Regions from separate parts of the Homo sapiens genome. Here region 2 is linked to region 1. Evidence: fine-mapped expression QTL. A gene starts in region 1. The other region holds a variant in brackets. All regions are shown on one strand. Distances are from middle to middle.

Region 1 (2,906 bases):
TTACAAGCATGTGCCACCATGTCTGGCTAATTTTTGTATTTTTTGGTAGAGACAGGGTTTCATCATGTTGGCCAGGCTGGTCTTGAACTCCTCACCTCAAGTGATCTACCTGCCTCGGCCTCCCAAAGTGCAGGAATTACAGGTATGAGCCACTGCTCCTAGCCTCTGAGGCTCTTAAGTGCCTCTGTATTGCACACATGTCACTGGAATACTGTTCTTTAATCCTGGGAAGCAACTGCTTTAAAATGAGGGAACACACAGGTACAAAGCACAGGAACTTCCTGGGACGAATTGTTACAATTTCTTTAGCTCTTATGTGAGGCAATTGTTTAAAACCTGACACCTGCCCTGTGAAGTTGGAACTACTGTCCCCAGTTGATAAATAAGGGACATGAAGCTTGGCCACGTCCTGTGACTTGCTTGGGGTCACCAGGCTCAAGGGAGGGAGCTGGGCTTTGCAGCCACAGTGTGCTCTAAATGGGGCTGCTCACCAACCAGCGACCGGCCTTCTCTCCTGCTGCAGGCTTGGTCTCACTCTGGATGGCCTGCCCTGCCCAGCCCCATGCTGCCCATTAGGGGAATCCGTCAGAGGCTTGCCCTGCTTGGGCAGGAGGACTGTCCAGGTAGACTGGGATGCCCACAGAGAGCAGTGGACAGAGGCGAGAAGTGCCTGTCATTTCCAGATGCCACCCACTGAGCAGATGCAGAGGAAAGTCCTCAGAAGGCTGATTCCTCCAAAAAGCTTTGATCTGGGTTTCAGCCCCTGGCAAGCTTAGGGAACTTGAGGGACGTCCCTGGGAAAGGAAGACAAGGAGTGGCTTTATGTGCTTTCCTTCGTTCTGAAAGTAGCACCTGCTTGTGACAAATGCAGAATACAGAAATATAGGCAATAAAAAATAATAAAACAAAAACCTAGAAATACAGGCAGGGCATGGTGGCTCACACCTGTAATTCCAGCACTTTGGGAGGCTGAGGTGGGATGATTGTTTGAAGCCAGGAGTTTGATACCAGCCTGGGCAACATAGTGAGACCTGGTCTCTACAAAAAATAAAAATTAGCCAGGTGCGCTGATGCAGGCTTGTGGTCCCAGCTACTTGGGAGGCTGAAGTGGGAGGATCACCTGAGCCCAGGAGGTGGAGGTTACAGTGAGTCTTGGTGGTGCCACTGCACTCCAGCCTGGGCGGCAGAGTGAGACCCTGCCTCTCAAAAAACTACAATAAAAACAAACCAAAATTGGGTTTGATGGTCTCACTTCATCGTTAACATAAAGGAAAAACAGTAACACTTGTGTCAGAACTATACTCCTGCCAATGGCAACAACGCAGTTCCTGTTCCACTCGCTGAATGAGGTCACGGGTCGTTCACTCATTGTAGTCTTTGTGACGCTATTGTTGGTGATAGAATGATAAAGTTGATGGTCGATTTTGCAAGATACACCTGAGGTACAGGTGCATGGAGCTCCTGATAATGTGTACTGCGTTACATGATCTGTAAATCGTGGGCTACGCATCCTCTACACCCGACTGGAACACGCTTTGCACCTATGCGCACACGTGTTTCGCGGAGAGTGGTGCTCAGCGTTGTGCCAGGCGCTGAATCAGGCTCTGGGGTGCAGCAGTGACCTCGGTGGTCATGTCCCCGCGTCGCCCGGCCACCTCCGCAGAGCAAGCTGAGCAGGGGGCTGGCTGGAGGCCGACGGCGGAATCCCCTCAACGGAGCGCCGCCAGGGGGCGCGCGAGGCAGGGCGGAGCTGCGTACTTTGTCCGCCCGCGCGGCCCGTCGCTCGCGCCGCGGCGGGAAAATCCGACCTGGCCGCGCACCACCGCCCCTTCTCGGCCCTCCTGCGTTTGCCCAGGGTCGGCCCGCAGTGATGGAGGAGGAGGCGGAGACCGAGGAGCAGCAGCGATTCTCTTACCAACAGGTACAGGAAAACGGGGGTCGGGCTGGGCTGGGGCAGGACGGCGTCGAGTTTCTGGACAGAAAAGTACCCGGCAGCCCCCGGCGGCTTCTCATCGGCACCCCGCCCCCGGGCGCCCCCCGCGGCTGCGCATGCGTTGGCTTAACTGCCGCGGGTGGTGCTGGGAGGCGGTTTCCGCGGCAACGCGGCTGGACCCTGGCCTGCGCTGGCTGGGGAGGAAGCGGTTCTAGGGGAGCGTGCGGGCGCCGGGGTCCGGCGGCGAGAGGCCACCTTCTGGCCTTGCGATGAATCCTCGGTTTCCCCTTCTCAGATGGGGTTTTCGTGAGGGTACAACGTCGGCATTAGACATTCCAGGTGACGCCCGTACGCGGTGGGCGGTTCGGGCCGGAGCTCTGGAACGCTGGCCCTGGAGGCGTCGACCCCTCGTTACTGATGCAGGGACGCGGTGCGGACCAGTCAGGCCCAGAGCTCGTCCTTAGATGTGGGTTCGAATCTCTGCCCCGCCAACTTGTGATCGTATCGACTCGGCCCAGACGCAATTTTCTTCTCTGCAAAATCGTCATAAGAATAATCACTTGTCAGGGTAGCTGCGGGCATCCCATTCGTTCCTTTCATCAGCGCCGGGCATATGGGGCGTCAGAGGCTGAGAACGTTGCCGTGAAGAGGCTTAAAAGCAAGACCCGGAGTGGCGACCTTAAAGAGGACGGACTGAAGAAACGCGGGAATGAGCTCCAGACGCGGGAGTTTCCTCTCTACAAAGTTACACTGCAGCAGCTGTCTACCCTGCCCCTTGTCTTTTGAGAAGTTCAAACCTTCAGAAAAGTTGCAAGAACACGGTACAGAATGCCCAGATGCCCGTCACCTTGATTCACCACTAGTTAGCATTTTGCTCTGTTTGCTCCCATGCTTCCCTCCCAGCCCCGCGATTGGAGAATTAATTGCAGATATTTTGACACTTCGCCTTTACATTTTAATTCTTTAGTACACA
Region 2 (2,906 bases), 36 kb after region 1:
GCTGGGATTACAGGTGTGAGCCACCGTGCCCGGCCAATTTTTCTAATTTTCTTTTAGTGTTAAAATTGGGAAGAAGGGTCGGGTGTAGTGGCTTACACCTATAATCCCAGCACTCTGGGAGGCTGAGGTAGGAGGACTGCTTGAGCTCAGGAGTTTAAGACCAGCCTGGGCAACATGGTGAAACCCTGTCTTTACCAAAAATATAAAAATTCACCAGGCATGGTGGAGTACGCCTGTGGTCCCAGCTACTTGGAAGGCTGAGGTGGGAGGATCGCTTGAGCCCAGCAGGCAGATGGTGCAGTGAGCTGAGATTGCACTACTGCACTCCAGCCTGGGTGACAGAGCTAGACCCTGTCTCAAACCAAACCAAACCAAAACAAAAAACACCAAGAAATCATTTCCTCAAAGAGGCCTTCCTCCGTGTTCCAGTCTAGAGTAGCCTCCATCACTCTCTGCATACCACTGTCTGATATGCTTTCCTGTTGCTTTCTGCCTCCCTTCATCAGAATACAAGTACCGTTAGAGCAGAGACTGTGTCTGGCTTGTTCGCCACTGCACACCCAGTGCATAGAACCATGACAGGCACAGGATGGGGCTCAATAAATATGTTTTGGGTCAAGCACAGAGGCTCATATCAATAATCCCAGCACTTTGGGAGGCCAGGGTGGGAGGACTGCCTGAGCCCAGGAGTTCAAGACCAGCCTAGGCAACCTGTGAAGACCTCCTCTCTATAAAACATTAATTAATTATTTTTTTTGAGACTGAGTCTTGCTCTGTCACCAGGTTGGAGTGCAATGACGTGATCTCGGCTCACCGCAACCTCCGCCTCCTGGGTTCAAGCTATTCTCCTGCCTCAGCATCCTGAGTAGCTGGGACTACAGGCACACGCCATCACGCCCAGCTAATTTTTGTAATTTTTTTGTTTTTTGAGACAGAGTCTTGCTCTGTCTCCCAGGCTAAAATGCAGTGGCGTGATCTCTGCTCACTGCTACCTCCCCCTCCCAGGTCAAGTGATTCTCCTGCCTCAGCCTCCTGAGTAGCTGGGATTACAGGTGCTTGCCGCCACGCCTGGCTAATTTTTATATTTTTAGTAGAGACGGGATTTCACCATCTTGGCCAAGCTGGTCTTGAACTCTTGACCTTGTGATCCACCCTCCTCAGCCTCCCAAAGTGCTGGGATTACAGGCGTTAAGCCACCGTGCCCGGCTGTATTTTTAGTAAAGACGGGGTTTCACCATGTTTGCCAGGATGGTCTTGATCTCTTGACATCGTGATCTGCCCGCCCCGGCCTCCCAAAGTTCTAGGATTATAGGTGTGAGCCACCACGCCTGGCTTTATTTATTTATTTATTTATTTTTGAGACAGGGTCTTGCTTTGTTGCCCAGGTTGGTGTGGTATAGTCATGGCTCACTGAAGCCTTGACCACCTGGGCTCAAGTGATCCTTC[T/C]GCCTCAGTTTCCTGAGTAGCTGGAACTACAGGCACACGCCACCACACCTAGCTAATTTTTGTAGAGATAGGGTTTTACCACATCAAACTCCTGAACTCAGGCAATCTGCTCACCTTGGCCTCCCAAAATGCTAGGATTACAGGTATAAGCCACTGCACCTGGCCTACAAAAATTAAAAAAAAAAAAAAAGAAAAAATAGCGCAGTGTGGTGGTGCAAGCCTACAGTCTCAGCTACCTGAGAGGTTGAGGTGGGAGGATGGCTTGAGCCCAGGAAGTCGAGGATGCAGTGAGCTATGATCATGCCACTGCACTGGGTGACAAAGCAAGACCCTGTCTCAAAGAGAAATTTTCTTTGAATGAAAACATACTGTTTTTATCCCAATCTTTTTTTTCTTTTTGAGATGGAGTCTCTCTCTGTCACCCAGGCTGGAGTGCAGTGGTGCGATCTCGGCTCACTGCAAGCTCCACCTCCTGGGTTCAGGCGATTCTTCTGCCTCAGCATCCCGAGTAGCTGGGACTACAGGTACAGGTGCACACCACCAGGCCCGGCTAATTTTTTGTATTTTTAGTAGAGATGGGGTTTTACCATGTTAGCCAGGATGGTCTCGATCTCCTGACCTCGTGATCTGCCCGCCTCGGCCTCCCAAAGTGCTGAGATTACAGGCGTGAGCCACTGCACCTGGCCTATCCCAATCTTACTAGAGAGAAAACACAAGGAGAGAAGCTAAGCTACTGGCTCAAAGTCGTGGTGACAGCGCTGGGATGTGAAGCCATCTACTCCAACGCTACATTCTCTAGCAGGGCATCCCTGACCCCAGCGTCCACCTAACTAGGTTTAGGGTGGATCCCAGGCATTTGTATTAAAAAAAAAATCTGGCCGGGCACGGTGGCTCACGCCTATAATCTCAGCACTTTGGGAGGCTGAGGCAGGTGGATCACTTGAACTCAGGAGCAGCCTGGCCAACATGATGAAACGCTGTCTCTACTAAAAATACCAAAATTAGCCAGGCGTGTTGGTGTGCACCTGTAATTCCAGCTACCTGGGACGCTGAGACAGGAGAATTGCTTGAACCCGGGAGGTGGAGACTGCAGTGAGCTGAGATTGCACCACTGCACTCCAGCCTGGGCGACAGAGTAAGACTGTGTCTCAAAAAAAAAAAAAAAAAAAAAAAAAAATCCACAGGTAATTCTGCTTCGTGACGAGGGTTGAAAAATTACTCTAGGTGAGAATGAGAAGATGAAAAATCTTAGTTGTAATTTAAGAATTATTTAAAAATTAAGATTAAAACAAAGAAATTGCTATGGCAAGTATGGAAGCTAAGAAGGTGCTGGGGCGGGGGGCAGAGGCTGGATGAACATTGTTGCAGGTTGTGGAGGAGGCTTTACCTGGAGGTCCTCCTCTGATAGGAGGATGATGCTGGACAGATCTTCTTTCAGCTGCCTGGCCACATTCTTCCAC

Direction of the effects. Positions count from the first base shown, and alleles are read on the strand shown. Sizes are in standard deviations (SD) of each study's normalised expression.
For the expression in nucleus accumbens of the gene that starts at base 1,786 in region 1, allele C in region 2 goes with a lower level than allele T (moderate effect, 0.66 SD a copy in GTEx).

What was found. PIP is the estimated chance that this variant, and not a neighbour inherited with it, causes the effect. A credible set is the group of variants that fine-mapping cannot tell apart.
Region 2: its variant is the best candidate, but not a certain one, in a credible set for the expression of CENPS in nucleus accumbens (GTEx, PIP 0.62).

What each region holds. Positions count from the first base shown.
Region 1 is chr1:10,428,648-10,431,553 of GRCh38, forward strand. CENPS (centromere protein S) reads left to right here and starts at 1,786. Exons shown (of 5, transcript NM_199294.3): 1 at 1,786-1,921. The coding sequence starts at 1,871. It overlaps CENPS-CORT (CENPS-CORT readthrough), which reads left to right and starts at 1,786. Exons shown (of 4, transcript NM_199006.3): 1 at 1,786-1,921. The coding sequence starts at 1,871. RefSeq lists a silencer at 1,884-2,133 and an enhancer at 2,384-2,433.
Region 2 is chr1:10,464,357-10,467,262 of GRCh38, forward strand. DFFA (DNA fragmentation factor subunit alpha) reads right to left here. Exons shown (of 6, transcript NM_004401.3): 3 at 2,834-2,906. Among named protein-coding and RNA genes, the nearest start is that of DFFA, 6.7 kb to the right of the region's middle. The variant T/C (reference allele first, on the strand shown) is at 1,447.